4 linked regions of the Homo sapiens genome follow. The protein of the gene in region 2 purifies or fractionates together with the protein of the main gene of each other region. This does not show direct contact. Each region holds a gene or a part of one and is shown on either strand. Other genes may lie near its edges.

The links.
Region 1: the proteins of TRMT61A (region 2) and ARHGEF11 purify together in Homo sapiens (affinity purification with mass spectrometry; 3 studies listed by BioGRID and IntAct, with this or other methods). This does not show direct contact.
Region 3: the proteins of TRMT61A (region 2) and ARHGEF12 purify together in Homo sapiens (affinity purification with mass spectrometry; 3 studies listed by BioGRID and IntAct, with this or other methods). This does not show direct contact.
Region 4: the proteins of TRMT61A (region 2) and PBLD purify together in Homo sapiens (affinity purification with mass spectrometry; 3 studies listed by BioGRID and IntAct, with this or other methods). This does not show direct contact.

What each region holds. Positions count from the first base shown.
Region 1 is NC_000001.11:157,035,743-157,042,742, forward strand, and holds part of ARHGEF11 (rho guanine nucleotide exchange factor 11), read right to left. Parts: intron 1-7,000. UniProt on the Homo sapiens protein: May play a role in the regulation of RhoA GTPase by guanine nucleotide-binding alpha-12 (GNA12) and alpha-13 (GNA13). Acts as guanine nucleotide exchange factor (GEF) for RhoA GTPase and may act as GTPase-activating protein (GAP) for GNA12 and GNA13.
Region 2 is NC_000014.9:103,532,134-103,537,573, forward strand, and holds the end of TRMT61A (tRNA (adenine(58)-N(1))-methyltransferase catalytic subunit TRMT61A), read left to right. Parts: intron 1-448; coding exon 449-715; intron 716-2,416; coding exon 2,417-2,688; 3' UTR 2,689-4,940; downstream 4,941-5,440. UniProt on the Homo sapiens protein: Catalytic subunit of tRNA (adenine-N(1)-)-methyltransferase, which catalyzes the formation of N(1)-methyladenine at position 58 (m1A58) in initiator methionyl-tRNA.
Region 3 is NC_000011.10:120,472,368-120,479,429, reverse strand, and holds part of ARHGEF12 (rho guanine nucleotide exchange factor 12), read right to left. Parts: intron 6,381-7,062; coding exon 6,303-6,380; intron 4,871-6,302; coding exon 4,795-4,870; intron 4,091-4,794; coding exon 3,923-4,090; intron 2,770-3,922; coding exon 2,682-2,769; intron 2,212-2,681; coding exon 2,125-2,211; intron 1,984-2,124; coding exon 1,904-1,983; intron 1,275-1,903; coding exon 1,041-1,274; intron 1-1,040. UniProt on the Homo sapiens protein: May play a role in the regulation of RhoA GTPase by guanine nucleotide-binding alpha-12 (GNA12) and alpha-13 (GNA13). Acts as guanine nucleotide exchange factor (GEF) for RhoA GTPase and may act as GTPase-activating protein (GAP) for GNA12 and GNA13.
Region 4 is NC_000010.11:68,322,929-68,329,928, forward strand, and holds part of PBLD (phenazine biosynthesis-like domain-containing protein), read right to left. Parts: intron 1-7,000.

The sequences.
Region 1 (7,000 bases), on a different chromosome or scaffold from region 2:
TGGGTGGCTATGTGGGAATATATATATATACAGGAATATATATATATAGGAATATATATACAGGAATATATATATAGGAATATATATATGGAATATATATATGTATATATTTAGGAATATATATAGGAATATATATAGGAATATATATAGGAATATATATATATGAATCTATATATAGGAATATATATATATGAATCTATATATAGGAATATATATATATGAATCTATATATAGGAATATATATATATGAATCTATATATAGGAATATATATATGAATCTATATATAGGAATATATATATGAATCTATATAGGAATATATATATGAATCTATATGAATATATATATGAAAATACATATATGAATATATATGAATATATATATGAAAATATATATATGAATATATGAATACATATATGAATATATATATGAATACATATATGAATACATATATGAATATATATACATATATATATATGGCTGATTAATCAGGATCCATCAAATACATGCTAATCTCCTCAAACCATGACCCAACTTCCTAAGGGATCTCCCAGAACTGACTACTCACTTTTTTTTGTTTGTTTTTTGTTTGTTTTTTTGAGGCAGAGTCTTGCTCTGTCACCCAGGCTGGAGTGCAGGGGTGCGATCTCAGCTCCCTGCAACCTCTGTCTCCCGGGTTCAAGTGATTCTCCTGCTTCAGCCTCCCAAGTAGCTGGGACTACAGGCGTGCACCAACACATCAGGCTAATTTTTGTATCTTTAGTAGAGACGGGGTTTCACCATGTTGGCCAGGCTGGTCTCAAACGCCTCACCTCAGGTAATCCACCCACCTCGGCCTCCCAAAGTGCTGGGATTACAGGCGTGAGCCACCACGCCCAGCCTCCTGCTTCTCTTAAAAAGCTGTATTGAAGAGCTCTAAAACTATTTGGTAGAAATGGCCTAACCTAAGGGTCTAAGGAAGGTTAAGTATCCACTGTATTCAGTAAATTGCTAGGTATCAATGGCAGACAAAATGACTTCTACTGAAGATCCTAGTCTATCAATAGCACTACCCTTCTCCTAGTCCACCAGTCTCATAAATTTGGGAATAAAATTTGATTCAGGGCAGTGCACGGTGGCTTACACCTGTAATCCCAGCACTGTGGGAGGTGGAGGCGGGCGGATCACCTGAGATCAGGAGTTTGAGACTAGCCAGGCCAACATGGTGAAACCCCGTCTCTACTAAAAAATATAAAAACTTAGCCAGGCATGGGATCAGGCACCTGTAATCCCAGCTACTCAGGAGGCTGAGGCATGAGAATTGCTTGAACCTGGGAGGCAGGGGTTGCAGTGAGCCAAGATCGTGCCATGGCACTGTAGCCTGCGTAACAAGAGCAAAACTCTGTCTCAAAATAAATAAATAAATAAATAAATTTGATTCAGTCTTAAAATACTGGTTAATTCTGCTACCAAAACGTCTTGGGAATCCTGCCACTCCTCTTTGTCCCCACCATAACCGTTCTGATTCAGAAGCTCGTTATCTTTTCCTAAGATTGCTACAAAAACTCCTAGGCTTCCTAACCCCAAGCTCTCTTCTGCTCTATATATTAATATCAGAATTCTCTCTTTAAACACTATGTTTATCACCATATAATACATAAACCTTCCCCGGCTCCCTTTCTACTACCACATAAAGTCTGAATCCCTTCATTCTCCCTACCCTACCCATCTTATCAATCTAATTTCTCTCTGCTCTACAATAATCTTAACACTTGGAGACCACACCATGTTGGTGCCACCCCAGACAGAACCTTGCTCGTGTTGCTCCTCTAGTCTGAAATGGCCTCTTCTCTTTCTTCGACCTGAATAATTCCTAACTACTCTGCCTTTGACTATTCTTATTAGCACCAACCTTGCACTCTTCTCTAAATGTACCTTTTGGTGTACATAACGATTCAGCAATTATGTACCATCTTTTTATTTTGTGTTGCTTTGTTAATAACATTTCCCAACAAGCATTTAGGCTTGAGGCCATGCACGGTGGCTCATGCCTGTAATCCCAGCACTTTGGGAGGCTGAAGTGGGCGGTTTACTTGAGGTCAGGAGTTCGAGACCAGTCTGGCCAACATGGTGAAACCCCCGTCTCTACTAAAAATACAAAAAGTATACCGGGTGTGGTGGCAGGTGTCTGTAATCCCAACTACTTGGGAGGCTGAGGCAGAGAATCGCTTGAACCCAGGAGGTGGAGGTTGCAGTGAGCCGAGATCACGCCACTGCACTCCAGCCTGGGTGACAGAGCAAGACTGTCTCAAAAAAAAAAAAAAAAAAAAAAAAAAGAATGTAAGCTCTATGTTCTCCTGTACTATCTCTCAGAACACTGAGAACTGCACTGAGCCATCTGATAAATATTTCAAGTCCAACCAACCGTCAAGCGCCACAGATCACAGGTCATCACCAGGAGGGCTGCTAGATTGGTTCCCTACATGATTTGAGGCCAGGCTGTGACTGATGACTACAGATCCCATCACACCACTTTGTAGTGGCTGCTCCCAAATACTGGAAAGGAGCAGGGTCTGGAAAGCAAGACTCTGAAATTACTTCACTCTAACTTTTCAAAGCCCCTTTCTCACATATTCATGTCTTAGTTTGCTATTCTTTAAAATGAGGAGGAAAATCTTAAGGAAGTCAACAATGGTAATAGAGGGATACTAGTGACTTTAAGGCCTACGCTGAAATCACAATAGAAAGACAATAAAATGGTTTTAAATTGTGGCAGAGGAAGTTTCGTATCCAAAGGGATTTCTAATTGTTGAACTAATGGAACCATCCTCCAGAGATCACTGAAAATGGGAGAGGCCTTCAACCTGTCTTTACTAGGTTAAGAGACACCCTATTTGGAGTCCAGAGTAAAGGGCAAGAGGATCCCTTGAAGTCCTGCCAGATTTTTGTGATTTTTTCCTGAAATCTGTCCAATTGTTTTAGTACAATAAATTGGGGTATTCTTCCAGACCTTAAGAACACCTTCCAGGCCTGGCGTGGTGGCTTGCACCCATAATCCTGGGACTTTGGGAGGCCGAGGTGGGCAGATTGCTTGAGTTCAGGAGTTTGAGACCACTCTGGGCAACATGGTGAACCTCATATCTACAAAAATTAGCCAGGTGTGGTGGCACATGCCTGTAATGCCAGCTACTCAGGAGGCTGAAGTGGGAGGACCACCTGAGCCTGGGGAGGTCAAGGCTGCAGTGAGCCATGATCATGCCACTGCACTCCAGCCTGGGCGACAGAGTGAGACCCTGTCCCAAAAAACAAAAAACAAAACCACCTTCCAAATCCTATTCCAATTCTATTAGGGGCCATGGATTTCTCAGTTCCTCCCCATGTTTCCATGTCCCTGTACTTCCATCTTCTCTCCCATTTGATCAGGCAGCTTTGTTCTCTGTTCTTTTCAAGCTTTCATTTTCACTGATTTTCAGGAAAGCCAGACAATGATTTCTGAAAAACCATTTGGCCCACTGAAAGGACACAAAGCATTCTGGTTTCAGAGGCTGAAAGAACGTAATAGCTAAAAGGAATCAAATCTTAGAGGCTGGCTAGCCTAATTCCCTCATTTTTCCAAATAAGCAAACTGAGGTCGAGGGCAGGTAAGCACCTTTGCAAGGTCATTCACCCAGCTGCTAACAAAGCTGGCTCCATCATCCACGTCTACTAACTCAGATGTTGTGTTCTTTCCTCAGAACTCCAAACCTCCTTTCACAAAAGATCTAACATGACTTTTTATGAAGTTATACTTTTTTCTTTTTGAGACCAGGATCAGCAACTTCTTCAGTACGGTTTACCCCATGGGGCAAAGGAGTGATCTTGCATGCCACTAGCAGGTGTATGCTTGGGTCTTTTATCAATATAGTGATTGACAAAAGAAGGAACACCACAATCCACAGCAAAAAGAGTTTCCAAGCCACGTGATATATCTTTGAGTTAAGCTTAAAAAATAATAAACCAATAAAAATGAATTTTTAAAGGCAATGCTACTATGAAGAGGTGAAACAGATTCAGTCAATATAGATTAAAATAACTCCTCTTACGTTTATAGAACTCAACAGTTAACAAAGCCTTTTCACAAACATCAGATTATCAGAACATTAAAGCAGCAAGAAACACTATACAAACTAGAGTTTCTAAACTCCATTCCACAGAGGCTGTGAGCTTCCAGAACTCCTTTACCTTTATACTAACTAGGAGATTAGCTATGTGCTGTTCACAAAATCTTTTTATTTTTGATGAACTCGTATTGTCATTTAATTTTTCTTATTTCTTGTCTATTAAAAAAGCTAAACAAATACATTAATAAAAGGGCACTCTTTCAGAAATGTTTTTGAGTATCTGAAGTTAAGCTTAGTCTGCTCCTTCTCATAATGGTGATTAATTGCCAAATGTTTCAGCTGCAAATCCATTGTGTCTCTCATCTCACACCCCTAGATGGGAACAAGGGTACATTTTGGAAAAGACTCAGCATTTCCGGGACTTATCATACGTAGCTCTGGATCCCTGTCTCCATTCTGGGAGGCCAACCTTCTAATCTAGGTAGAAACTCAGCTAAATGTCTGGGGACTTCTTGGTCCCAGGAGTCAATAAAGACCAGAAGCCAAGGTGCGAAGAGACCCCTGACAGAGAACAGTTGCTGGGTCTAGATTTATTTTGAATTAGGAAAGTCATACGCTTTTAAGACAAGGAATGGCTGGAGATCACAGAACAAATCCTTTCTATCCCCATCACTAACAGACATTTAAGGTGAGCCAAGGTAGATGAAGTCTCTCTCATTCATCAGAGTTCCTGGGAAGGAGATTCAGTAACCCTTCTCTTCTCACATTCTTCTAGTACCCTATCTATTGGAAAAATACTCCTTCCTCCTGACCCCATGCACTTCTACAACAATAAAGCCAGTTCACTCTGCTTAAATTCTTCAAAATGATATAAAGATTTCAGTCACCTTGTTTTGTTTTGGGATACTTAGCTCAGAAAGTTGTGCACGAAGCTAAATCAAATCTGTGAATTTACCATCTATAATTTATATAGAGTTTACAGTTTAGAAAACAATTTGAAATACATTATCTCGTTTGATTTGCTCCTTTCAATAGGCTTGTGAGAGAGATGAAACAAACATTATAATCCTCAAATGACACACCATATAAAAATGTTTGAGAACTGGATTGTACTTTATAGAAATGAACTACTACTGCTTTACATGAGGAAGCCAGAGGAGGCATGTGACTTCCCCAAGGTCACATAGTTAAGGGGAAAGCCAGGACTCAAACCACAAACTCTTGGCTTAAAGTACTTTGGTTTGATCCTCACATGAACTAACTTTGGGCAGAGGAAAGATGTTTCATGGATGCAAACCCCTAACCCTCCTGTCCATCTCAAAAACATTTGCCATGGGGGAACCAGGCTAACAGATATAGATGGCTTAGCAAAACTCATGACCACTCCTGTAAAAATAATTTAGTATCATTATCTCTGTTTGCAATAGCAAACACATTTTTAGAAACTCTTGAAAGGAATATATATTAATGGGCAGTAAGTTGCCCATGGACAAAAACTGAAAGGGACATGAACAGCTACACTTTAGCCCATCTTTCAGTAACAACTGATTAACACTGAAAGATAAAGAATAGTTGCAAATACTTTATGCTTTCTATGGACCCAGGAGTCACTCTTGAACAGGGTGCTACAGGAGATGAAAGACTGCCAAGTAAATATTCCAAAATTTTCTTACTCTCAGCTACAATCTCTTTCCAAATACATAGTCCTTTATTATGTCATTTATTTTCTAGAAAATACACATTACCTAGGAAACCTTCTCTAATTGACCTTATTTGACTACATTTGAAATTAACACGTGAATGTTGAAACAACCCGCAATGAAATAATTTGTACTTGCTGATCTGTTCATTCACTCTAACATTCATTTGTCAAACATTTCTTGAGTACTCACCTCATGCAAGACACTAAGCTAGGCACACAGGATTTCATACAGGCAAACCAAACTGTCCCTGCTTGTGAGGGGCTTACAGTCTGGTGTTGCTTTATGTGGTCTTCAAGAGTCTTACGTGTTTCCCAGTCCCCCAGTTGCATGCTCTCTCTGTGAGCAAGTACTGTACACCTTAATTTTCTAAAACTCTCCTATAGCACCTTACACTAGGCTCTCTACACAGCAAACTGATAAACTGAAAGAATACTAGACTCCATAATCCGCAGCGTATTATTCCTTTCAGTGTGATTTAAATCTGTAAATTATTTAAAATCCATAGAGTCTTGAGGCTGATGTTGCCCAAAGTTACAATTGAATAAGCCTACAGTTAAGGGAGTAAGATTCAGTGCAGCTAGCTGGGGATGTCTGAAGGGGATCTGAGTCCTACCACTCTTAATGGGGAAGAGAATCAGGCAGGGTGGAGGTGAGGAATACCCTTACCCTGCAAAGCTGCACTATCTTACAAGAGAAAATAGTGCTTTAACTATAGGACTTACAGGTATGAGCCCCAAGACTGAACCCCCAAGGTAGGAGCCCCAAGACAGAAAAGTAGAAGGGAAGACCTTGACTGCTGACGGGCACTTTACCCTACTACCAAAGAGAAAGGAGAAAACGGTGCCCCACACATTCTACAGGACCAGTACAGAAGCCTAGTTAGACATGATGGGGCAATGAAAGAGCTACAGATTCAGACTCAGAAGACCTGTGTTTGAGTCTTTGAGTCCAGATTCTGCCACTAGCCAGGCAAGATGGCACTGGGCAAGCCAGGTAGCCTCTCTGAGCCTCAGTTTCCCCTTCTGTGAAACATGAATAATAACCTCTGATGCTTCTGTCTACCTCACACAGAACCACTGTGAGATTCAAATGAGATATGTTCTACGAAAGCACTTAGGAAACTGTAATGTGCTGGGCAAATCCTGAGATTTTTATCTATGAGGATATCCAAACCCCCAGGAGTGTCTCACATCAACCCAGGAAGGCTCACCGCCTCCTCC
Region 2 (5,440 bases):
GGCAGGGTGGGCCACTGTTGACGGGGATTGAGGAAGTGATGGGCCATGCATGGAATAAGACAGGGCTGAGTGATGGGATGGCCTCCCTGTCCCCCTTGCACAGATTTCCCCGGAGGCTCCAGGCAGCTGGGCTGCTCTCATTCCCTATACCTGCGCTAGGCAGGATAGGGCAGGGTTGCCACTGGCCTCGCCTGTGCCCACAACAGACAGCACGGCATACACAGCCTGTCAACCCCAGCTCACCCCTAGACAGGGTGCCCAACCCAGGGCTAGCCTGGGGCTTTAGGCAGCCAGGACCATACAGCCCTGGAATGACGCCCACCTGTAGCTTGGGGTCCTCCCAAGCCCTGTGTGGGTCTCCAGGGTGAGGTGGGGGTTGTTTCCTGGGAGGCTGTGGGTCCCGAGCAGTCCCAACTGATGCCTTGCCCATCCCTTCTTGTCCTGCCAGGCACCGGCAGTGGCTCTGTGTCCCACGCCATCATCCGCACCATTGCACCCACGGGTCACCTGCACACGGTGGAGTTCCACCAGCAGCGGGCAGAGAAGGCCCGGGAGGAGTTCCAGGAGCACCGTGTGGGCCGCTGGGTGACTGTGCGCACCCAGGACGTGTGCCGCAGTGGCTTTGGCGTGAGCCACGTGGCCGACGCCGTCTTCCTGGACATCCCATCACCCTGGGAGGCCGTGGGCCACGCCTGGGACGCCCTCAAGGTCGAAGGTGCATCCGGGGTTCCGGGAGAGGTACAGCCTGGGTGGGGGTGGGGCAAGGGTGCAGGACTGAGCTCCTGGGATCTCAGAGGGGTCCAGAGACCAAGCCACACCATGGCAGTGGCCAGGCCAGGGCCCCACTTTGGCCTGAGGTGAGGAGTGGGTCAGGCTGGCCAGGGGAGGCAGAGCTGGGGAGGATGGTCCCTGGCTGGGCCCTGCTCCTGGTCTCTGGCCTCTCCCAACCCCCTGATGGAGGAAGGTGGCAGCGCCACCCAAGTGCAGGGCAGGCCCGGCCGGAGGAGTCTGGAGTCCCCTCCCTGCTGTTTCCCAAAACCTCTCCTCCCCCAGGCTCTGGAGCCCAGGGAGCTGGCCCCTTTTAGGGAAGATGCTGGGTGCGGAGGCGGGGCAGCCCTGGGGAAGGTCGGGCCTCAAGCCAGGGAGGTGGCTGGGAGGCCCAGGGTTTTTCCCTTTTCTGGAGAAGGAGCAGCTCAGGCAGCAGGGGCCCCTTCCTTCTTCCCAGCTGAGAGTTGTATTCTGAGAGGGTTGAAGGGTGGAGGTGCTGGGCGCCCCACCCCACCTCAAAGATGAGCCGAGGCCTGGTGCGAACAGCAAGGCTGTGGCCGGGGGTCCCCTGCTGGCTCCAGCCCAGCCCTGACTCCTGGGTCCTGGTCTCTGCTGAGGTGGGTAGCTGTGGGGATCTCCACACCCTGCCTCCTAGGCTTCCTGCTCTGGGGACACTTCTGGGCCTGGACCATAGTCCCAGGGAGGCTGAACCCGGCAGAGCCTCCCCTGGGGCCCCCCTGCTGCCTTTGTGACTCCTTCCTCCAGCGTGGCTCGGGGAACCCGCGCCTGCCTCTGGGACCTGTCCCTTTCCCTGCGAGCTCCCCCTTCTGGGTCCAAAGGCTCCTGGCTCATTCATGGGCCCGGCATCTCCTGCCGGCCACGGGAGCCCGCTGGGGAGGATGCGGCATGCTCAGCCTCTGTGCCCTGTCTAGGCTGTTGTCACACAGCAGGTGCCTCCTCTAACCCCGAACCTCCTGGCGGCCCCGTGTTAGGGTACAGCTGAGGAGACCAAACCTCAGGGACGTTTGAGGACACTTGCCTGGGCCACATACCTCTACCCGGCCCTGGCTTCCCCAGGTCCTCCCTGCCAGGACAGGGACCCGGGCTGGGTTCTCATTCACTGCAGGCCAGGCCAAGTGAAGCCCGTGGCTGCCCTGGTGGGAGGCGGCAGGGAGGGGCTGTCATGCTCGGGCTCTGCTTCGAGTAGGCGCCTCCTGTTCCCGGGAGCAGCGACAGCCTCTAATTTCCTGTGACAGCAGCGGCCCCCGCACCGCCCCACGCTGCCGTGCTGTCAGAGCTGCTCCGGGCCCAGAGCTCCAGCAGCCCTGTGGAAGGCAGGAGAGCAGTGCCCGCTGTGGGCCAAGTGAGACAATGGCAGCGCGGGCTTGACCCGGTGCCTGGCACATGGGAGGGCCTGGCATGGCTAAGCTGGGTGACATGAACAGCGGCGCCAGGCCCCATGGGGGGCTGTCAGTTGAGGGCCAGGCCCCTCTGCCCTGCAGTCCCAGCTCTTGGAGAGCTTGCAGTCTGTGTTGGGGCTGTCTTAGGCTGGCCTCAGACCCTAGGGTGGGAGTCCAGGGATGCTAGGGCCAGACGGGCCAGGCTCTGCCACCCCTGCCCTCTGACCCTCGGGTCCTGTTTCCCACAGGCGGGCGCTTCTGCTCCTTCTCACCGTGCATCGAGCAGGTGCAACGCACATGCCAGGCGCTGGCAGCGCGCGGCTTCTCAGAGCTGAGCACCCTGGAGGTGCTGCCACAGGTCTACAACGTGCGCACTGTCAGCCTGCCACCGCCCGACCTGGGCACAGGCACAGATGGCCCTGCCGGCTCCGACACCAGCCCCTTCCGCAGCGGCACGCCCATGAAGGAGGCCGTGGGCCACACCGGCTACCTGACCTTCGCCACCAAGACCCCAGGCTAGGGGGCCGCCTCCCAGGGCACCAGGGAGCTGGGAGCACTGAAGGGCTGGGCAGGGAGGCCAGAGGCACCTTATATGGTCAGCGATGCCTGCCAGACACAGACGGTGGGGTGGGGCTTGGGGGCCTCCTGGGTGGCCAGAGTGGGACAGCAGGAAGGGCGGCTGTGATGGAGGAGCAGTGCTGGGGCTGGGCCTCAGCCATTCCTGTCCAGCCCTGTGGCCCATCCCAGCTGCTGTTTGTTGCCAATATGAAGTATCCACTGCCACAGGCTCCCCTGGGTGTTGAAGCCAAAGGGTGCAGGTGGGGGAGTCTGACCCCCTCCCAGGTGGGCCTAAGCAGGAAGGGGGTGGAGGAGGGAGGGGGGCATTGACCCTGAGACCACGCTGCGTCTGACCCCTGGGCCCCCACGGCCCTGGCTGCCCCACGGGGCCTGAGACCATCTCGTGCTTCTCCAGTCCCCGGGCCGAGGCTCCAGCCTTGGCCAGAAGCTGGGGTGAGCTGACCCAGAATCCCTGCCCTGCTCTCCCCAGCGCTAGGAGACCAGGCCAGCCCAGGAACCAGGGAGGTGACCCTGCTCTCTGGCCTCCTGGCTGATGTCACAGCACTGAGCTCAGCCCAGGCCTTCGTCCACTCATGTCCAAGAGGCGGGGCATCCCCCACCCAGCCAGAGCCCCTGACATGGGCTGCACTCGCTGAGGCCAGGCAGCGCTGCGGAGAGGAGCGGCAGAGTGGGTTGTCTGCCGCAGGCAACCAGGCAAGTGTGTCGGGGCTGGGGTGTGAATGCCAGCCTGTGAGTCCCGGAACTATGTGGGTACCCCTACCCCTCACAGAAGCCAAGGGCATGGAGGAGGTCCCTCCACAGTGACAACGGTGTGGGGTAGGGGAGGTGCATTCAGGACACCACCCAGGGACAGTGCCTATGTGATCACCTCTTAAAGGCTAAGCTTAGGGGCATTTCCCAAAGTGGGGACAGAGGGCAGGACGCCCAGGCTGGGGGCTCTCCTCGCCCGCCCTGGTGTCTGACAGCCTCAAGGAAGGAGCAGTGCCTGTGTCAGCCATGGGGCCCTTGGAGCTGCCGCTGGTGCCTAGGGGGCCTGGGTTTCTGCCCAGGCAGCCAGTGGCTGTTGGGAGCCTCTGTTTCCCCTGTGCTGGGGGCCTTGAGTGCTATGCTAGCAGGGGCCTGGCCCCAAGTGTGAGTGATGAGCAATAAACGTACCGTCCCCCTCTGTTCTGAGTGATCCCTAGCAGCCAAGGCCACCCCCAGCTGCTGTCTAGGCCAGCCCTACCTGCGCTCTGCCCCTGGTCCCTGCTCCTCCCTGTCCTGGTTTGGCATGATAGGCGCTCCAGTCTCCAGGACAAAGGGGCAAATGTGTGGCCACCCCCATCTGGCTGCAGAAAAGGCCACTCCTTCCTGGGGTTGGGGTGGTCCAGGAGTGCTGGGCCTTCTTCCACAGTCCTGGGCTGGAATTCAGTGTGGCTGCCTGGGTTACTTGTATGCGCCCCTGAAGGAAGGGTCCACTCCAGGCCGCCTGGTCCCTGCGAAGTGTCACACTGTGGGTCACCGGGGGCTGTGGCTAATGTGGTCCGGGAGGCCTGTGTCCCTGAGAGTTGCTCAGCCCTGCTCCGAGGGCTTGTCCTCTCCTTCCAGGACCCAGCTTCCCTTCTAACCTTGTTACTCACCTGGGGCACAGAGGAGGGGCCCCCAGTCAGGTTCAACATGGAAGTGGGTGACCCTAATGCCAGGAGCTTTGGGGTCAGGCTGTCCCTGGGGTGTCATGAACTGGGTGACGCACACCCCTGAGATCTCAGTTCCCCCAAGCCTGCCCTGCCCCTCCTGGCCACAGCAAAGGCCTGCATGGTGTCTGATGGGTGGACACCGGGAGGTGTTTCTTTGAGGCGCAGCTCCATGGTTTATAGGACACATAGGCCTCAGGCACCGTAGGGTCCAGGTTGTGCCCATTTTCCAGCCGGGGCTGGTTGCCCTGGTGGCAGCCCTGGGTGAGTCACCAGGGTCCGCACATGGAGAGCGGGAGGTCCCAGCCCACCCTTAGTTGTCACATGGGACAGAGTTGCTGTGTCAATCCCCTCGGCCCTGCTGCTCTGCCCTGCACACAGGCCCCCATGATGACCTTGAGCCTCCAGGCATCCACCCCCACCGTATGGCCCTCTAGACCCAGCTGGGCCTCACCCCACTCCCTCAGCTTGGATCCTCACGTGGCCTGGAGCCAGCATTAAACTCCTGTATGTCCTTCAAGACCCCTTCAAATGTCCTTTTCTCAGCATGCTTCCCCAGACATCTAATGCCCAGGCGGGAGAGTCCTGCACACCATGTCCCGAAGGAGTCCCCATAGCAGAGGAGCAGAAGGCAAGCAGCGCCCCAGTTCTGTGATGGGGAGCCTGACTTTCAGAGGTAGAGCTGGGCCCATGGCCGTGAGTGACCGATGAGCAGGCCCGGATGGTCAGCGCGAGTCAGCAGCACGGGCTCATCATGGGGCACGGATTCACCAGAAACTCCCTGCCTGGCCCAGTGTGTACTCGCCTGTGGCCCTCAGATTTTCCCTGGCAATTCCTCCCCGCTCACCCTGCTGTCCTGCACTGAGACAGTGGCACATGACTCCCAGCTGCCCAAGCCCTGGAAGGTCCCAGACCCTGGCTCTGACTCAGCTGCTTGGAGGGTCCTAGTCCTGGGAACTGCCCTAGAGCCGAGATTAGAGTACCCCTCCCTCAGGAAGCCCCGGGGTGTCAGCTGCTCCT
Region 3 (7,062 bases), on a different chromosome or scaffold from region 2:
GTCACCCAGACAATGATAGAGTTATTGGGACAATGTTATTCCAACCATCAGAAATTATTAAGACTGTTAATTCAGGAGAAGGTATAAAAAATATTGTAGGTTTTAAATAACCAATTCTCTGCTCTCATCACTAGCTTAATGTCTGTCATGTTTCTTTAGGCAACAGGTTCCACTTAGGTCTCTCATCCTCTGTCCTTCTGCTCTACAATCACTTCCTGAGAGATGCCAGGAAGTCTCATGGCTCTGATGCTCACATCTCTATCTCTTCCTAACCTCTCTCTAAAGTTTCACTCCTAAAACTCTAACTTCCTGCTAGTTACTCACTTTTTAGTGTTTTGTCATTCATTATCTTAATCTTGACATGCTTTAAAACTGAGCCTATAATTCTACCAAATCAAAAGAAAGAAAAAAGAAAGTACAATGGAAGGAGGTGGGGGAAGCAGTGGTAGTCCTTTTCTGACTCTTATTTCTGACTAGATTAATGAAATTATCTCTAAATATTCCCTTTCCTTTGACCTCACATTCAAAGAAGTCAATTATTTTAAGCATTTGATGACTTCTCAGTTTCTTCTTATTCCTTCTGATAACATTCTAGTCCAAACTCTTTTAGTCTCAGGCCAGACTATTATAATAGCTTATTTAGTAAGTACACCATTCCATACCTCTTTCCATTCAAATCCTTCCACCGCTTTCAGCCAGATTAATCTTTTTTCATACCTTTAGTCATACGCTGGTTTAAAAATTTCAAGTGGTTCTCCCCAGCCAAAGAAATTGTTCTCAGCCTTTTTCCCACCTCAATACAACTGAGAGATATGCTATCCTCCCATTTTAACAGTGATTCTGAACCAGGCAGGGGGGTGGGGAGCTAACAGAGTGGCATGTGTGTGTGTGCCTGTGGCATGGGCCACTGTAGAGAATACTATAATCTCCACAATAGAACTAGAAGAATAAGTGGAGTTTGATAAATCCACATACTTTAGGGATGGCACATGAGTGTCATACTTAGTAAGTATCTGTAATAAGTTATGAATAAAACTTACAATTTCTTAGTGCATCCAATGCCCACCGTTCTTCTGAGACAGGCAGGTGTGAATCTGGGATTGCGATTTGATAATCTTCTCCAACTTCCTTTAGTGTCCCATCTGTATGTTGTTCCTTTGCAAACTGTCTCTCAGCCACAAACAGATCACGTACCTCTGATTTCCCAGAGGTACTCAGTGAATGAGACTGAGGTTTTGACGATATTAAGGTAGATTCTAATCCCAAATCTCTGTCTGTCCAATGGAATAGAAAAGGTAGACTATATCTAAACAAAGCTTTTAACTTTTAACATGAAGCATTCAGGGAAGAATCAGAAAAAAAAAAAACAATCCATAAACTACAGAGATCATCTGTTAAGAAAAATACACATCACTTAGAACAGTGTTATACTGACACACAGAAGGCTCAAAGGCAAAGTTTGTTAAACTGAATCTCTGATGCTGGAACCTGCATAAACCAAACAGTATTAAAGTTTCTTTGCATTTTATTTTATTTTCTTTTTTTTCTTTTTTTCTTTTTTTTTTTTGGTGTTTCGGTCTTGTTGCCCAGGCTGGAGTGCAATGGCACGATCTCGGCTCACCGTAACCTCCGCCTCCTGGGTTCAAGCAATTCTCCCTGCCTCAGCCTCCCAAGTAGCTGGGATTACAGGCACCTACCACCATGCCCGGCTAATTTTTGTATTTTTTAGTAGAGACAGGGTTTTGTCATGTTGGTCAGGTTGGCCTCTAACTCCTGGCCTCAGGTGATACGCCTATCTCGACCTCCCAAAGCACTGGGATTACAGGCATGAGCCACCACATCCGGCCAGCATTTTAACAGATAATAGAGCACATTCTCCATTGAACTCTTCAGAAGAGTGTACCTGGACTCTGCAAACCAGTGACTGAAATGCCATGCTGCTCCTCTTTTAATTTTGAAGGATCTTCTTCATCATTATCTCCTCTGTAGAGAAAAAAAAAAAAAAAAAAACTTTTACCTTCCTGAGGTATCTAAACATCATCGCAACAAAACATAATAATTATCCTAGTCTTTTCCAACCCAAAACATAAAATAAGTCCTACTACAATGCAAAGGAACACTCACTCGCCAGGTGTTGACTGTGGTAATGGAATTGGCTTTGTGGATTGCTCCTTCACTGATGCAGCCATCCGACAGATTAGGTCCTGCCAGCTTCAGAAAGTTGGAAAGAAATCCAAAATACAAAAAAGAAAAAAGAAATATCCTTTAAATATACTCAGAAAGCAAAACTAAACAAAAACCAAATCAACCAACAACAACAACAACAACAACAACAACAACAACAACAAAACCCACTCTGCCAGAGAATATCTTTATTTTGGCAACACACTATTAAGGCGAGAGTCCAAAACTATACCTTAAGAGAAATCTATGGACACATTAAAAAAACTTCACTTGACATTTTGCACAATTTTTTCTTTAGGAAATAAACTTTCAGAATAGAATCAAAATAAAAGGCATCAACCTAAAAAAGAACAAGTTCATAGTAGAACGTCTCTAAAAGAGTACAGAGGAAGTGCTTGGTTTCCATACATTATAAAAACAAAGTTAAGTTTATGGAATATTACGCTTGGGATAATGAAAATATTAGCTATAGCAAGGTAGCCATATCTGATACATACACAGTCTTTTCAGAAACTGTCTGTGCCACCAGTTCATAAATCTGAGCGCCATTGTCTGACATGGAAATGACGAATAAAGCTTTGTTATCTGGAAAAAACAATACAAGATTACTCTAATACTATGACCTGGGGAGGCCATGAGGGATGTTTTTAGGGTCTTGAAATAGTCTGCCCCTTAAACTAGATAAAGGTTACATATATTTACTTTAAAATTCATCAAGATGTACACTTAAAATTTGTGCAACTTACCATATTAACGTATTTATTGTACTATATTTATTGTACTTCAATAAAACAAAGATTATACGAATTAGCACTAATTCCACAATAATTTACTAGAAACTTTGCTAAAAGCATGTCAAAAATCCAAATTACTGGCCGGGCACGGTGGCTCACACCTGTAATCCCAGTACTTTAGGAGGCCGAGGCAGGTGGACCGCTTGGAGCTCAGGAGTTCGAGACCAGCCTGGGCAGCATGGCGAAACCCTGCCTCTACATAAAACAAAAAAATTAGCCAGGTCATGGTGGTGCATGCCTGTAGTCCCAGCTACTCAGGAGGCTGAGGTTGAAGAATTGCTTGAGCCTGGGATGTGGAGGTTGCAGTGTGCCAAGGTTGTACCACTGCACTCCAGCCTGGGTGACAGGGTGGGACCCTCGTCTCAAAAGAAAAAAAATAAATAAATCCAAATTACCAGATTAAATGCTATTACTCTTTTGCATTTATTTTGAACTGCACTTTTGCTAAGTTGTTAGTTAATAATATTCAGTGAGTAGTGGAGAAAAGAGGTCACAAATTTATTTTGCCACCATGAAACTAACAAGTTTTAAAAGGGACCCCGTTGTTAATAGAGTTAAAATATAACTTGCCAGTCAAATTTGATTTTTAATCAACACTACATCCGTCTCTTTGGTTTTTGATTTTTTTCTCACCAAATCAAAAAACATACCACCCTAAATGAAAGGCTTTTCATTGGGATCTATCAATGATTTGAACATAAAGAACCAAAGTAATAGCATAAAAATTTTCAAATGCAGAAAACTGTTCACAGAATCGAGACACCCTAATAACTTTGGGGTATAAACTCTTAGGTCTCTTTCTAAGCAGTAAATTTCATGTAATTTGCTTAAGAATATAAAAATAGCAAGACTCTATGCCACTTGTGTTATTGAGACAGCACCGAGTATCTTATGCAACTTCACAATGAATCTGGAAATTAGTATCCTTCAGTGGACATACTTGCCTGTTGCCACTTGTCGAACCAACACTGTACTCAACTTAATGACAGGGCTAAACGTGTGTTTGCTATCAGCTGTAGATGCCAGAATCTTACTATGACACCTTAAAACCAGTCTATCATCCTGCTTTTGTAACAATACAAGAATGTCTTCCAGCAGCAACGTGTATAAATCTAGAAATAAAAGTGCAGAAAAAAATGGTAAGTACAGAAATGGAGACGCGTTTGATTAACTTTATAATGATTCAACAGAGGAATTCTATTTCTGTTAAAGCTACAAAATTTTAAAAATTGACTTGTATATTATCTTTTAAAATTTCATTTTCAGTAATTCATTTTTATTTTATTTCACTGAAGTGTCAGTCTGTGACCAATAGGAAATAAAAAACAACAAGCTGGGTGTGGTGCTGTGCGCCTATAGTCCCGGCTACTAGGGAGGCTAAGGCAGGAGGATCCCTTAAGCCCAGGAGTTCGAGGCAGCAGTGCACCATGACTGCATCTGTGACTAGCCACTGTGCTCCAGCCTGGGCAACATAGAAAGACCTTGTTTCTGAAAAAACAAAAACGGTTCCTCATCACAGACAGTTTAAGATGTACTGGTCTAAAGAAAGCTTACAAAGCATACAAAGACTCACTAGACTATAAGAATGATGGAAATAGGACTAAATCAGTTCTCCACTACATTCCTAAATGAATATTTAACACATCTTACATATAATGAAATAACACAAGCAGATCTACAAATGTACAAATAACACGAGGTAGCACTGCAAACTGCTGAGAGAATGGTTCTCTCCTCTTCCCTTTGTCATAGGAAACTTTCCTATTCCTTCCCTTTTGCCACTCTCCCCAAAACTAAAAGACAATATCAGACCTACCAATAGTTTTATCTCTATTCACCTTCCAAACCAATGGCCCTTCATGAATCATCTTCCTTTTTGTTAAATCCAAATTCTGGCAAAATAAAGAAAATCATGCACAAATAATTTCCAAGCACTCAGTAACATGATTATCTATATAATACAGTCTCTTTTAAAGAAATTCTTAATATAAAATACACCATTTACATTCAACTATCATTATTGCTATTTGTCAGTTCTTGAAAATGGCACAAAAGCCATATTAAAGTAATCTGCATACAATTTTCTAAAAAGGAAAAGGTATCTTGCAGAAGAACATTCAGGAGTACTATCTTCAAACCTCACTCTAAACAGATGATAACAGATTATGAAGATCAAGTTACAAACATTCAGTCACTAGATTCTCAACGTATCCTTTAATTTTCCTATGAATAACTGGATGAGCATGGTACATATGCTTGTCTATAAGAAAGTGGCTTCTGAGTTCCAAGGCTCTAATTTCAAAGAAAGTTCTAAGAAATAGTACTCATGAAAAGTCCAGGTACTACTCAGACTTGGTCTAAATATTAACAACTTATTAGTAAGAGAATCATCTTTTAGTATTAGCAGCTCTAGAAAACTCTCATTCTTTGGAAGCTAAGGGGAATAAGCACATTTACGTGCTTGTTGACGAAGTATTAATATATGACATAAAAGTCTATTTTAACAGCCACCAAATAAATCTGCCAAAACCACCACCTAGTGAAATGGTACAAAAACACTTAAAATCCGAAAAAGTTAACACATAAGCCCACATACTAGAAGTGGCAATTAGTAAACATTTTACTATCGTTCCTGTAATGGTTCCAACTTTTATGCTTCTGAAGAGCCTCATGAGAAAATAGTATGCTATCTTGTGTTATTAAATGATCTGGAAAGTTACCAAACAGTCCTACCCTTATTTAAACTACAGAACACAGGCTGGGCATAGTGGCTCATGCCTGTAATCCCTGCACTGTGGGAGGCTGAGAAAGGAGCACTTGAGCCCAGGAAATCTGGACCAACCTGACAACACAGCGAGACCTTGTCTTTACAAAACACAGAATTAGCTGGGTATGGTGGCATATACCTATAGTCCTAGCTGCTAGGGAGGCTGAGGTGGGTGGACTGCCTGAGTCCAGGAGGCCAAGGCTTCAGTGAGCCAAGACTGCACCACTGCATTCCAGCCTGGGCAACAGAGCAAGACCCTGTCTGAAACAAACTACAGAACACAATAAAATTAAATTTTATAATAATTAGTGTCCCTTAGTCTCCTGCCAATTGCTGTCATGTAATATTACAGTTTTATGCAAGATATTCCTCTAATGAAAAACTAATTTCATACAGATCAAGCATTTAAAAGGCAGCAAAAAAAATCATAAATACAGATAATCTACGATACAAGAACTCCTTCAGGTGACGTATATTCCCACTGAGATGTTAATTACCTGCCAGGTCTTTAGCAAATTTTATTTTATTTTTTAAATTATGATTAGACCATCTCTCACCCTGAGCTCTTCAACATTTGGGTACTCTGACAACTTCAGGCTGGAGGTATCAAGGCGACGCTGATAATCTTCTAGGCGCTGAAAATTAGGCAGGGTGGAACCAAGGTTAGTGCTTTGGTCATTAATGACCTCTCTATTTCTGAATCAAACTTGGCATTTAAAATCTCCATTTTGGCCAGGCGTGGTGGCTCACACCTGTAATCTCAGCACTTTGGGAGGCTGAGGCAGGTGGATCACGAGGTTAGGAGATCAAGACCATCCTGGCTAACACAGTGAAACCCCGTCTCTACTAAAAATAAAAAAAAATTAGCCGGGCATGGTGGCGGGCGCCTGTGGTCCCAGCTACTTGGGAGGCTGAGGCAGGGGAATGGTGCAAACCTGGGAGGCGGAGCTTGCAGTGAGCCGAGATCACGCCACTGCACTCCAGCCTGGGCGACACAGCAAGACTCCATCTCAAAAAAAAAAAATCTCCATTTTACTGAGCTCTTTGCAATGCTAGACAGGACTGAAAACTCACTCTCTTCCCGTGGCTTTGGTGATAATATACTCTCCTAGTTTTCCTCCTGCCTCTTTGGCTTTTCTTTCTCAATCTTCTTTTCAAAGTCATTGGTCTCTTATTAGCTTATATTTATTTTCTGAATATGTAAATCATGCACACAGTACAAAATTCAGATGGCTATATAAGGCAAAAAATAAAAAGTCTCCCTCTAACCTTGTCCTATTGCCCCACCCCCCTCAATTTTCCCTAAAGAAGCAATCA
Region 4 (7,000 bases), on a different chromosome or scaffold from region 2:
TGAGATCTCACTATGTTGCTCAGTCTGGTCTCAAACTCCTGGTCTCAAGCAATCCTCCTTCTTTGGCCTCCCAAAGTGCTGGGATTACAGGTGTGAGCCACTGTGCCAGCCAAATATAAGATGTTAACAGAGGAAACTGAGTGAGCCATATATAGGAATTCTATGTAATATCTTTGCAACTTTTCTATAAATCTACAACTATTCAAAAATCTAAAATTTTATTTTTTTTAATGATCTGAGGCCTGCCAATAGCCATGGGAGTGAGCTTTTAAGCAGATCCTACCCTAGTTGACCCTTGAGATAACTGAAGCTCCAGCTGACATTTTAATTATACCCTTATAAGAGACCCTAGGCTGGGCATGGTGGCTCACGCCTGTAATCCCAGCACTTTGGGAGGCCAAAGTGGGTGGATCACATGAAGTCAGGGGTTCAAGACCAGGTGGGCCAACATTGGGAAAACCCGTCTCTACTAAAAATACAAAAATTAGCCAGGCTTCGTGGAGCATACCTGTAATCCCAGCTACTCAGGAGGCTGAGGCTGGAGAACAGCTTGAACCCATGAGGCAGAGGTTGCAGTGAGCTGAGCACACCACTGCACTCCAGCCTGAGGGACAGAGTGAGATTCCATCTCAAAAAAGAAGAAAAAGAGATCCTGGGCTAGAAGCATCCAGCTAAGCTGCCCCAAGATTTCTGATCCACAGAAATTATGAAATAATAAAAGTTTGTTGTTTTAAGCTGTTAAGTTTTGGAGCAATTTGTTACACAGCAATAATAACTAATAGAGTATACTTCCTTTTATGTAGAATATTCAGAAGTATCCCCCACAAAAACACTGGGATAATTTGCATTCCATTTGTTTGATAGTTATATTCTTCACTGTAAATAATAAATTCTCATTCTAGTTTTTACAACAGATTCCACAGCAAATTTACTTAGCCTGAGGCCATCCCAAAAAACTTATTTTGAAGTATAAAAGCAAAATATATGTCAATGAATGCCAAATCTACATTCCTATCCAGATTAATTTCCTACTAGACACATTCACTCGGACAGTACATGGCATCTCAAAATCAACACACCCGATATTCCTGTATTTCCTATGTCAGTTAAAATTCTCAGCATCCAACCCTAAGCCAAAAATAATTCATCCTTGACTTCTTTTCACTCACCCATGCACAGCCTTTCTACTCAAGCACTAAACCCTGCTGATAAATAGCTCCTAATTTTCTTTTTTTTTTTTGAGATAGAGCTGGGACCACAGGTGTGCGCCACCATGCCTCGCTCTGTTGCCAGGCTGGAGTGCAGTGGCACGATCTGGGCTCACTGCAACCTCTGCCTCCTGGGTTCAAGCGATTCTCCTGCCTCAGCCTCTCAAGTAGCTGGGACTACAGGTGCGCGCCACCATGCCCAGCTAATTTTTGTATTTTTTGTAGAGATGAGGTTTCACCATGTTGGCCAGGATGGTCTCGATCTCTTGACCTCATGATCTGCCCACCTTGGCCTCCCAAAGTGCTGAGATTACAGGTGTGAGCCACTGTGCCCAGCCAAATATTTCTTAAAGAGAGCCTCCTGTATCTATCCCTAATACCATTGCTCTAGTTTAAGTATTCATCATCTCTACTGGTCCTTCTCCTAGTCTTCTCTCTTCTTACCCTCCCAATATCTACCCTCCACACTTTATTTATTTATTTATTTATTTATTTATTTAGAGACAGGGTGTCACTCGCCCAGACTGGAGTGCAGTGGCACAATCTCAGCTCACCACAACCTCTGCCTCACAGGCTCAAACGATTCTCCTGCCTCAGCCTCCCAAGTAGCTGAGATTACAGGCATGTGCCACTATTGCCCGGCTAATTTTTGTATTTTTAGTACAGACAGGGTCTCACCATGTTGGCCAGGCTGGTCTTGAACTCCTGACCTCAAATGATCCACATGCCTTGGCCTCCCAAAGTGCTGGGATTACAGGCGTGAGCCATCATGCCCAGCCAACTCTCCACACTTTAATCAGAACTATCTAATTAAAACACTACATCTGGGCTAGGTGCAGTTGCTCACACCTGTAATCCCAGAACTTTGGGAGGCCGAGACAGGCAGATCACGAGGTCAGGAGTTCAAGACCAGCCTGGCCAACATGGTGAAACCCTGTTTCTACTGAAAATACAAAAAGTAGCCAGGTGCGGTGGCAGGCACCTGTAATCCCAGCGACTCGGGAGGCTGAGGCAGGAGAATTGCTTGAACCCGGGAGGCGGAAGTTGCAGTGAGCTGAGACTGTGCCACTGCACTCCAGACTGGGTGACAAAACAAGACTCCGTCTCAGGGAAAACAACAAAACAAAACAAAAACCCACTACATTGGCCGGGAATGGCGGCTCATGCCTGTAATCCCAGCACTTTGTGTGGCCAAGAGAGGTGGATCACTTGAGGTGAGGAGTTTGAGACCAGCCTGGCCAACATGGTGAAACCCCGTGTCTACCTAAAAATACAAAAATTAGCCAGGCGTGGTGGTGTATGCCTGTAGTCCCAGCTACTCAGGAGGCTAAGGCAGGAGAATCACCTGAACCTGGGAGGCAAAGATTGCAATGAGCTGAGATCACGCCACTGCCCTCAAGCCTGGGAAACACAGTGAGACTGCATCTCAAAAACAATACAAAAAAACCCAAAAAGCACTACATTGATCATCAATCTTAAAAGCCAAGCTCCATAGGGTAGCACACAAACTTCTCCAAGATCTGGTTCCTACCTACTTCCTTATTTTACAATGTTTCACCTGCTTAGAGTTTCCACTTCTGCCGTTATTTTGTACATCCATGCCTTGGATCTTACTGCGTCCTCAACTGTAAATGCTTTTCCTATTTTTCATTGCCCCACTAAATTTTACTTATCCTCCAACACTTAACTCATGAGTTGTCTCCTTCAGAAAGCTTTCTCTGAAGCCCTAGACTGTGTGAATGGCCAGATTCTGTGCTCCCCAAACACTCTGTGCTTACCCTATTTTGTCACTTGCTACAGTTTAATGTAATTTATCTATGTAATGGAATGTATCTGTATGCTCTTGAAAGTCAGGGACAGGTTCACTTTATGTACGTGCATTTTTTTTTTAGCTCATCCAACATTATAGAATGTACTTGATTTTTCTGTTTTGTTTTGTTTTTGTTTTTTGAGATGGAGTCTTACTCTGTTGCCGAGGTTGGAGCACAGTGGCGCAATTTCGGCTCATTGCAACCTCCGCCTCCTGAGTAGCTGGGATTACAGGCATGCAGTATCATGCCCGGTTAATTATTTTTGTATTTTTAGTAGAGACGTGGTCTCACCATGTTGCCCAGGCTGATCTTGAACTCCTGATCTCAAGTGATCCGCCAGCTTCGGCCTACTAGAGTGCTGGGATTACAGGCATGAGCCACTGTGCCAAGCTGTACTTGTATTTTTTATGGATGGATGGAAACATATACTGACCTACTAGGAATTCAGTAATGCTCTCAAATCAATTTCCATTTATTAATAACAGCTGCATCTGCCTATATTGGAAAATCAGCAGCACATTACATCGGAAATATTATTTATTCTGCCCACAGAATAGTTCATATGAGTTACAGATTTCACTGGAATAATGTCCTGGCTCCCAATGTAGCTCTTAGGATACTGTACTTACTTTAAAAATTCTATTAAATTCACTGCTATTAAATGAGTTTAGCAGGAATGAACCAGATTCATTAACAATGCTAGGACAAACACAAATAAATAAAACAGCATGGAACTAGAATTAACATTATTTCAATTACTAATCTCCACCCCCTATATAATAACCTAACAAACCATTTTAGAGATTAAGAAACTGAGGTGGCCATGCACAGTGGCTCACGCCTGTAATCTCAGCACTTTGGGAGGCCGAGGCCAGTGGATCATGAGACCAGGAGATTGAGACCATCCTGGCCAACATGGTGAAACCCCATCTCTACCAAAAACACAAAAATTAGCTGGGTGTGGTGGCACATGCCTGTAATTCCAGCTACTCGGGAGGCTGAGGCAAGAGAATTGCTTGAACCAGGGAGTCAAGGGTTGCAGTGAGCTGAGATCGCGCCACTGCACTCCAGTCTGGCGACAGAGCGAGACTCCACTACAAAACAACAACAACAACAATAAAAAAAAAACTGGGGTTCAGAAAAGTTAACTGGTTCAGAATCAATTCACTGGTAGCTGGTGTCAGAACTGGGACTCCCTGATTATGAAGTCAAGTCTAAGTTTTGCCATTTACTTTTTTGGTAAACTTTGAAACACTACTTTATCTACTGGCTTTTTCATTTCTTGGTCCATGAAACAGTAACTTTGCAAGACTGCAGTGAAAATGAATGACTTAAAGTGTCCCTGCCCCCAGTGTGACCATCGTTATTTTTTGCAGACTTAAAAACATAGGTATATGAATAATGAGATCTATATTTTTATCTACCACCAAGAAGCTTAAAATCTGGGTGGGGCTGGGCGCTGTGGCTCACGCCTGTAATCCCAGCATTTTGGAAGGCTGAGGCAGGTGGATCATGAGGTCAGGAGTTCAAGACCAGCCTGATCAACATGGTGAAACCCCGTCTCTACTAAAAATACAAAAATTAGCTGGGCGTGGTCATGCATGCCTGTAATCCCACTCAGGAGGCTGAGGCAGGAGAATCGCTTGAACCCAGGAGCCAGAGGTTGCAGGGAACAGAGATCATGCCACTGCACTCCAGCCTGGGCGACAAAGCAAGACTCCACCTCAAAAAAAAAAAAAAAAAAAAAAATCACGTTGGGGGAAATGGTCTATTACTGTATTATCAATGCTGTATTTTCAAAGTTATTAATGTGCTTATGACACACTAAAAGCAGTACAATAATTTCATTTAAATTATTTAAGTAGCTATCTTTTTAAGCTGCTTTCCCTAGCCTTCACAGCAATTCACTGGAACAAAAAGAATGTTCAATTATTTTAATTATTTTCAAAAATTAGAGAAAGAATATGTTTAGGTGCTTTCTTCCTTTTGAGTTTTCATTTGTTTACTTAGTATAATTATTAAGATTGAACAGGCCTTTTGGTTGCCAGATTCACAAAGAACACTTAGGTGACTTAGAGAAACAAAAAAGTATCAAGAATATAAACTGTGTAATTCAGTCTTGTCTTGAGAAACAATGTTGAACCATAATAAAGGAGATTAGTGCTTTCTAAAGACAAGATACATAGGATATAAACCAAAGAATAAGCATTTCACAGTCTTACACAAATTTAGTGTTTAAAAGGCATTAACTACCTTAATTAGATGAAATTTAGTGGATTTTGTTACATTTTTTAGATTATTTGCTTTTTACATAGGCAAAAGATTATGATAATCCAGTTTTTATGGTACTTCACAATGCCACTGGGGATATGTGAACAAATATCTTAACCAATTTTTCGTTAATGTGCCTTCCCTCCCCCCGAAGAGTGTAATCTCTTTCAATTTCTTTTTTTCTCTCAGGCTCTGCACGGAATTTTCCTCTCCTCTTCATCCTGATGGTGTAATACATGATCACGTGTTTGTTGTCTTGTTTTCCTCTGGGTCACATGGGTACTTCTATTTCCTTCTCCTTTTTCATCTTTTCTCTCATTATGGTCTCTAACAAGATCCTCTCCAGGGTCCCTCTGATCTCTATGCTAATAGGAAAGCACTGGAATGATGAAAAGGAAGACAAAGAGAAAAAAAAGTCCCAAAAGCAGCTGGCAGTCCTTGGTTTTAACCATCTCTATGGAAACAATTCCACACAGATAGGTCTGGAAACAATTCTGTAGGGATCACTGGAGCAGTGGTGAGCCAGTCTCACCAAGCCTTATTTACAGGATTCAACTTGCAAATGAGAATCGTTGACAAGACTTTTTTTTTTTTTAAGAAAGGTAGTAAAATAGGAAGCCAAATAAAATGTACATTTATGACTATGTAGCGGTTTTGTTTGTTTGTTTGTTTGTTTTGAGACGGAGTCTCGTTCTGTCACCCAGGCTGGAGTGCAGTGGCACGATCTCGGCTCACTGCAACCTCTGCCCCACCAGGTTCAAGCAATTCTTGTGCCTCAGCCTCCCAAGTGACTGAGATTACAGGCATGTGCCACCACGCCCAGCTAATTTTTATAGTTTTAGCAGAGACAGAGTTTCCCTATGTTGGCCAGGTTGGTCTCAAACTCCTGACCTCACGTGATCCACCTGCCTCGGCCTCCCAAAACGCTGGGATTACAGGCGTGAGCCACCATACCCAGCCTATATAGTGTATTTTTTAACTCAAAACTTCCTACTGTAATAATAAAAAGGCAAAAGGAATGTGTAAACCAATTTCAAGTCCTTCCTGAGTATGCACACTGGCAGAGTGCCTGACCCAAAGAAATTATGGCAAGCAAGCAAGCAAGCAAGCAGCAGTTTGGTAGTGAAAAGTCAGTCATGTCATTAGAATGATTTTAAGATTGTGGCCCATAACCACACAAAATATGCGGAAGGAATGCCAAATTCAATTAGGCAGTAAAACAAATTGTTTGAATTCAAGCAAGGAGTGAAGGAGATTACAGAATTCCATCTGCCAAATCGGTTGAAAGACTGAAAGGATAGAAGTAGCCATGTAACTTGAACCCAGGAGGACCAAGGGAAGAACTCCATCAGAATTGTGGGAGCTTAGAGTCTTATTAATACAGCAATTTTTTTTTTAAAAGGAGGGAGAGGGGTTGGGACTCACAGTGTCTTGGGACTCACAGTGTCAGTGATAATGGGACTATAAAGTTTCAGGCCTGTTCAAAAAGTCTCCAGCCAATAAGCTAGTAACCACAGGTCTCCTGAAATGGTAACTCCAGTGTTAATTAGGCAACATAACCTCAATTTTCCAAAAATGATGTCTGTTTCCTTAAGTTATAGATAAGTTATTTGTAACCTCACGAAGGTTCATAGTGTTTTAAGACCCTGGCCCTTGGGTAAAACCCTATGGGCTCCAATTCTAGCTCTACCACTCAACTGTGTGACCTTG